Regions from separate parts of the Homo sapiens genome. Here all the other regions are linked to region 2. Evidence: fine-mapped expression QTL. A gene starts in region 2. Each other region holds a variant in brackets. All regions are shown on one strand. Distances are between the middles of the regions. Region 1 has its middle 21 kb from the start of CCNA1. Region 2 holds the start of CCNA1 (cyclin A1). Region 3 has its middle 65 kb from the start of LINC00445.

Evidence for each region.
Region 1: its variant is fine-mapped to the expression of CCNA1 in whole blood (INTERVAL, PIP 0.99).
Region 3: its variant is fine-mapped to the expression of CCNA1 in lymphoblastoid cells (GEUVADIS, PIP 0.95).

What each region holds. Positions count from the first base shown.
Region 1 is chr13:36,451,797-36,454,296 of GRCh38, forward strand. No RefSeq gene overlaps it. Among named protein-coding and RNA genes, the nearest start is that of CCNA1, 21 kb to the left of the region's middle. The variant T/C (reference allele first, on the strand shown) is at 1,156.
Region 2 is chr13:36,431,329-36,433,828 of GRCh38, forward strand. CCNA1 (cyclin A1) reads left to right here and starts at 1,167. Exons shown (of 9, transcript NM_001413923.1): 1 at 1,167-1,401; 2 at 1,705-1,893. The coding sequence starts at 1,729. RefSeq lists silencers at 471-540, 821-870, 901-1,060.
Region 3 is chr13:35,761,621-35,764,120 of GRCh38, forward strand. No RefSeq gene overlaps it. Among named protein-coding and RNA genes, the nearest start is that of LINC00445, 65 kb to the left of the region's middle. The variant TACACACCTATACAC/T (reference allele first, on the strand shown) is at 1,451.

The DNA of each region.
Region 1 (2,500 bases), 20 kb after region 2:
AGCCTCCCAAGTAGTTGAGATTACAAGCATGCAACACCATGCATGTGTGCTCTTTCGCTTTCTTTCTTTCTTTCTTTCTTTCTTTCTTTCTTTCTTTCTTTCTTTCTTTCTTTCTTTCTTTCTCTTTCTTTTTCTTTCTTTCTTTTTCTTTCCTTCTTTCTTTCTTTCTCTTTCTTTTTCTTTCTTTCTTTCTTTTTCTTTCCTTCCTTCTTTCTTTTTCTTCCTTCCTTCCTTTCTTCCTTCTTTCCTTCCTTTCTTTTTCTTTCTTTCTTTCCTTCCTTCCTTCCTTCCATCCTTCTTTCCTTCCTTCCTCCCTCCCTCTGTCCCTTCCTTCCTTCCATTCATTCGTAACGACAGGTCCTCAAACAGGCTGATCTCAAACTCCTGGGCTCAAGCAATCCTCCCACCTCAGCCTCCCAAAGTGCTAGGATTACAGGTATTATCCACCGAGCCTGGCCCTCTATATTATTTATAATTTGATTTTTACGGGTATGTTTAAATTACCTGTTAGTAAATTTTCTATAATCCTTTCAAAGTTTTATCCAGCTCTTTATTTTAAATAGAAGAATTTAAAATAATTCTTGGCCAGGCATGGTGGCTCATATCTGTAATCCTGGCAGTTTGGGAGGCTGAGGTGGGAGGATTGCTTGAGCCCAGGAGTTAGAGACCAGCCCGGGCAACATAGTGAAAGCCCCATCTCTACAACAATACAAAAATTAGCTGGACATAGTGGCACATGCCTGCAGTCCCAGCTACTTGGTAGGGTGAGGCAGGCAGACTGCTTTAGCCCAGGAGGTCAAGGCTGTAGCGAGCCATGATCCCACCACTGCACTCCAGCCTGGGCAACAGAGTGAGACCCTGTCTCAAAAAAAAAAAAAAAAAAAAAAAATAGAATTCTTCAGCTGCTGTTAAGGAAGATTCCTAGCTTCTTAGACCTGTTGGCATTACAGTCATTGCCCTTGTGTCCAAATGAGGCATCAGGAAAGCTGCAGCCTTCTTCCTCAAATCCCCTGGGGTTAAATTGTTGAATGCTGCTGATACAAATCACCAGGTTAGTGATGGGCTCTGTATTAAATATTGACACAAGATAAATTACTGGAATACTTTTAAATGTCTCGTATTATTAAGCACTTAGTGATTTTATTATATTTTCAC[T/C]TTCAGGAAAAACTAAAGTTTGGGTTACTAACATCTGACAGTCTAGAATTCTGAAACTTGTAACTCCATAACATCAGCTTAAAAAAATTGATTCCACAAGACACATACAAATACTCCTTGTAGGAGAATTATTTTGGCTCTATATATTGAGATTTATTCAAAGATCCTTAAAATTATCTGGAAAGCTTCAGACTGATACTTTCAAGCAAATATTAGTAGTCAATCTTGTGGCAAAATACAAGCTCCTTAAGAGCAGAACTTCTCTTTTCTTTATTTCCTCTACAGCCTTGCTGCTCAAAGTGTGGTCCATGGATCAGCAACATCAGCATTGTCTGGAAGTCTTTTAGAAATGTACAACCTTGGCCCCAACCTAGATTTACTGAATTTGAAATCTGTGCTTCAATAAGATAGAAGATTTGTGTGCACACTCAAGTTTGAGAAGCACTGGCCTATAGCACCCACCTCAGTGCTGGAAATGTAAGAGCTTAATAAAGTTTGGCTGGTGTTTCAGACTAGAACCTTCAAGAATTGATCATCAGTTTCAACTTCTTTGTTCCAAGGGTTGCTTTGGACTCTAGACTTCACCGTTACGCATCTGCTAGAAATAAACAGCAAGGCAAAATTTAAATAATGGGATTTTTTTTAAAAGTCCCATTCTATTTGATTATCTATACTGCACTCAAACAAACTGAATTTGGAGAGAAAGAGCCATCTCTGCCACTCTCCTGCTTCCTTTTAACCACACAGTGTCCTCTATGTGGCAGTATAACTCTGAGAAATGTGCAGAAAGTCAGCATTTAGTCTTTAGTTACCATCTCTCTGCTCAGAGCTGTCTGTCCCACAACGACAGACGGATAAGAGAGTCCATGAGTTAGGCCTTGCTTGCAGTTGGGAGGCCCTCAGAGGTTTTCTCTCCTTCTTTCTCTATTTCGTTAAACTCAAGAGGCCAAACATCTCAGATCTGGCCATATCACAGTACTGTAAACTCAACTGTCCCCTCTCCCTTAACTTAGGAAGCTTAACTAGAAAGGAACTCCAGAAACCATGGAAAAACCAAGTTCAAGATCATAACTCCTCAACACCTGGGCTTAGGTTGGAGGGAGTTGGCGCATGGACAGGCCTCAGATGGAATCCTCCAGATGGAATCCTTAAGCACTACCCTAATGACGTAGTGTTTCCTGTGACTAACATGAGCTTCAGGTATCACATTTGCAGTGTTGGGAGTGGGAGCATCTAAGCAAGAATGGTTTTCATCCAGGGGTGTGTGTCCTATGGGTGGTGAAGCCAACAATTAGTATATCCTCTGGGCATTAAGCACACGACATGACCACAAAGAACTTTTGTA
Region 2 (2,500 bases):
GGCTTGTCAGTCACCTATGCAGGCGTCTGAGCCCCCGGGTTTCCAGGAGCCCCCCGTATAAGGACCCCAGGGACTCCTCTCCCCACGCGGCCGGGCCGCCCGCCCGGCCCCCAGCCCGGAGAGCTGCCACCGACCCCCTCAACGTCCCAAGCCCCAGCTCTGTCGCCCGCGTTCCTTCCTCTTCCTGGGCCACAATCTTGGCTTTCCCGGGCCGGCTTCACGCAGTTGCGCAGGAGCCCGCGGGGGAAGACCTCTCGTGGGGACCTCGAGCACGACGTGCGACCCTAAATCCCCACATCTCCTCTGCCGCCTCGCAGGCCACATGCACCGGGAGCCGGGCGGGGCAGGCGCGGCCCGCAAGGACCCCCGCGATGGAGACGCAACACTGCCGCGACTGCACTTGGGGCAGCCCCGCCGCGTCCCAGCCGCCTCCCGGCAGGAAGCGTAGGTGTGTGAGCCGACCCGGAGCGAGCCGCGCCCTCGGGCCAGCGTGGGCAGGGCGCCGCAGCCTGCGCAGCCCCGAGGACCCCGCGTCGCTCTCCCGAGCCAGGGTTCTCAGGAGCGGGCCGCGCAGGAGACGTTAGAGGGGGTTGTTAGCGGCTGTTGGGAGAACGGGTCACGGAAACAGTCCCTTCCAAAGCCGGGGCCATCGTGGGGTGGGCGAGTCCGCCCTCCCAGGCCGGGGGCGCGGACCAGAGGGGACGTGTGCAGACGGCCGCGGTCAGCCCCACCTCGCCCGGGCGGAGACGCACAGCTGGAGCTGGAGGGCCGTCGCCCGTTGGGCCCTCAGGGGCCTGAACGCCCAGGGGTCGCGGCGAGTCCACCCGGAGCGAGTCAGGTGAGCAGGTCGCCATGGCGATGCGGCCCCGGAGAGCGCACGCCTGCCGCGGTCGGCATGGAAACGCTCCCGCTAGGTCCGGGGGCGCCGCTGATTGGCCGATTCAACAGACGCGGGTGGGCAGCTCAGCCGCATCGCTAAGCCCGGCCGCCTCCCAGGCTGGAATCCCTCGACACTTGGTCCTTCCCGCCCCGCCCTTCCGTGCCCTGCCCTTCCCTGCCCTTCCCCGCCCTGCCCCGCCCGGCCCGGCCCGGCCCTGCCCAACCCTGCCCCGCCCTGCCCCGCCCAGCCGGCCACCTCTTAACCGCGATCCTCCAGTGCACTTGCCAGTTGTTCCGGACACATAGAAAGATAACGACGGGAAGAGCGGGGCCCGCTTTGGGGTCCAGGCAGGTTTTGGGGCCTCCTGTCTGGTGGGAGGAGGCCGCAGCGCAGCACCCTGCTCGTCACTTGGGATGGAGACCGGCTTTCCCGCAATCATGTACCCTGGATCTTTTATTGGGGGCTGGGGAGAAGAGTATCTCAGCTGGGAAGGACCGGGGCTCCCAGATTTCGTCTTCCAGGTAACGTGGGTTTAGTATCCCGACTTGGAGGCTTGTCAGAATGTTTCTCTCCTTCCAGCCCAACACGAAGTCTTGGGATAAAAAGCCTCCCTCAGGGATTCAAATAACTGTTTTGATTCAGAGCAACTTTGATCGCCTGTGCGGTCGCACCTGCCCTTTCAGCCCCAATAATTACTGGGAAGATCAGCAATTGGTGTTAGTCCCATTGCTTGGTGCTCTCCCTCCTAGAGGTTCGCTGTGTCCTTGGAGCCCGGGGTGGACGGAATCGACTAAACAGCTTGTCTGTTTCTCTTTCCCTGGTAGCAGCAGCCCGTGGAGTCTGAAGCAATGCACTGCAGCAACCCCAAGAGTGGAGTTGTGCTGGCTACAGTGGCCCGAGGTCCCGATGCTTGTCAGATACTCACCAGAGCCCCGCTGGGCCAGGATCCCCCGCAGAGGACAGTGCTAGGGCTGCTAACTGCAAATGGGCAGTACAGGAGGACCTGTGGCCAGGTAATGACTCAGACGCATTGAGAATGATGCTTGTGGAGAACAGCTCTCCTGCTTTGGTGCCAGGTGCTTTTCTCTTGCCCTTGTACCTACAACTCCCCCTGAGTATTACAACCCTGGAATCTGGACTACAGGAAAGTTGATTGATTTATTTTCTTTCTTTCTTTCTTTCTTTCTTTCTTTCTTTCTTTCTTTCTTTCTTTCTTTCTTTCTTTCTTTCTTTCGTTCTTTCTTTCTTTCTTTTCTTTCTCTTTCTTTCCTTCTTTCTTTTTCTTTGTTTCTCTTCCTTCTTCCTTTCCTTTTTTTTTCTTTCCTTTCCTTTCCTTCTTTTTTTTTTTTTGAGACGGAGTTTCGCTCTTGTCGCCAGGCTGGAGTGCAGTGACGCGATCTCGGCTCACTGCAACCTCCACCTCCCGGGTTCAAGCGATTCTCCTGCCTCAGCCTCCCGAGTAGCTGGGATTTCAGGCACCCACCACCACGCCCGGCTAATTTTTGTGTTTTTAGTAGAGATGGGATTTCACCATGTTGGCCAGGCTGGTCACCAACTCCTGACCTCAGGTGACCCGCCCACCTCGGCCTCCCAAAGTGTTGGGATTACAGGCGTCAGCCA
Region 3 (2,500 bases), 670 kb before region 2:
CTACATTCATACACACCTACACTCATACACACAGCTACACACACCTACACATACACCTACACACATACACACCTACTCGTACACACCTACACACACTACACGCCTACACACCTACACCAATACACACCTACACACACCCACACACATACACACCTACACTCATACACACCTATACACACCTGCACACCACACACATACACACCTATACACACTCCCTACATACTAGACATCTACACACACCTACACTCATACACACCTATACACACACTCCCTACACACATACACACCTACACACATACCCACACTCACACATACCTATACACATACACCCCTACACACACACATACACACATACCTACACCTACACTCATACATACCTACACACACTGCACACCTACACACACATATCTACACACACCTACACACATGCACACCTACACCCATACACACCTATACACACCTACACACACCTACACATACACACATACACACACCTACACATACACATCTATACACACCTACATACAACTCATACCTATACACATACACACACACCTACACACATACACACCTATAACACACATACATATCTACACACATACAAACCTGCACACATATATGCATACACACCTATATATACACACCTACACACCTACACATACACACCTACACACATACATACCTACACTCATACACACATACAACCCTACACACATAGACACCTATACCTACACACACACCTACACTCATACACACCTACACACACACATACACACCTACAGTCACCCACAACTACACATACACACCTACACTCACCCACAACTACACACACATACACACCTACACTCACCCATACCTACACACACATACATACACAACTACACTCATACACACCTATACACACATACACACCTACATACATTCACACCTACACTCATACCCACAGCTACACACACACATACATACACACCCACACACACACCACATATACACACCTACACTCATACACACACCTACACACACATACATACACACCTACATTCATACATACACACACCTACATTCATTCACACCTACACTCATACACAGCTACACACACCTACACACACTCTACACACCTACACACCTACACTAATACACACCTACACACACCCACACTCATACACACCTACACTCATACACACCTATACATACCCCCTACACACCTACACACCTATACACATACACATCACACACATACACACCTATACACAATCCTTACCTACACACCTACACACACCTACACTCATACGCACCCATACACACACCCCTACACACATACCTACACACACATACCTACACTCACACATACCTATGCACACATACACCCCTACACACACACATACCTATACCTGCACTCATACATACCTACACACCTACACACACACCTACACATGCACACCTACACCCA[TACACACCTATACAC/T]ACATACACACCTACACACACCTACACATACACACCTATACACACCTACACACACCTACGCATACACACCTATACACACATAAACACCTACACACACCTACACATACACACCTATACACACATACACACCTACACACACTTACACATACACACCTATACACACATACACACCTACACATACACACCTATACACACCTACATGACTCACATACCTATACACAAACACACCTACACATACACACCTATACACACCTACATGACTCACATACCTATACACAAACACACCTACACACATACACACCTATAACATACATACCTACACACAAACCTGCACACATATATGCATACACACCTATATACACACCTACACACATACACACCTACACACATACATACACACCTACACTCATACACACCTATATACACATACTTTTACACACCTACACATGCACACATACACACTTACACACATACATACCTAGACTCATACATACACCCCTACACACCTATACACACGCCTACACACATACACACCTACACCTACACACACATACACTCATACACACCTATACACACACTCCTACACACCTGCACTCATACACACCTACTCATACATACACACCTACACTCATACACACCTATACGCACATATACCCCTACACGCCTACACACACACACATACACACACACATACATACACGTGTACTTTCAGGATAACAAGGTAGTGACTTTACTGGAAACTCTAGCAATGGCACCGTGAGCTGCTGCTGTGCGGTGGGAAATTTGGAAACACAGGAGTAGCTGCGGTGCAGGGTCTGAGCTCCAAAGCTTCTCCCAGGCATCCTTGGGAACTGCAGGACAGTGAACAGCAAATAGCCCGCCTGCCAGCTGTGCTCTGACTTCCTCCAGATGGTGTCTGGTCCTCTCATAGGGGCCTGTGGTCCCTCCTGCGAAAGTTCACTTTGAGGATCATCCCCAAATTCCAGACTTGAAGAGGCACAGAGGTGGCCGAGGCACAGAGGTGGCCAAGGCCAGA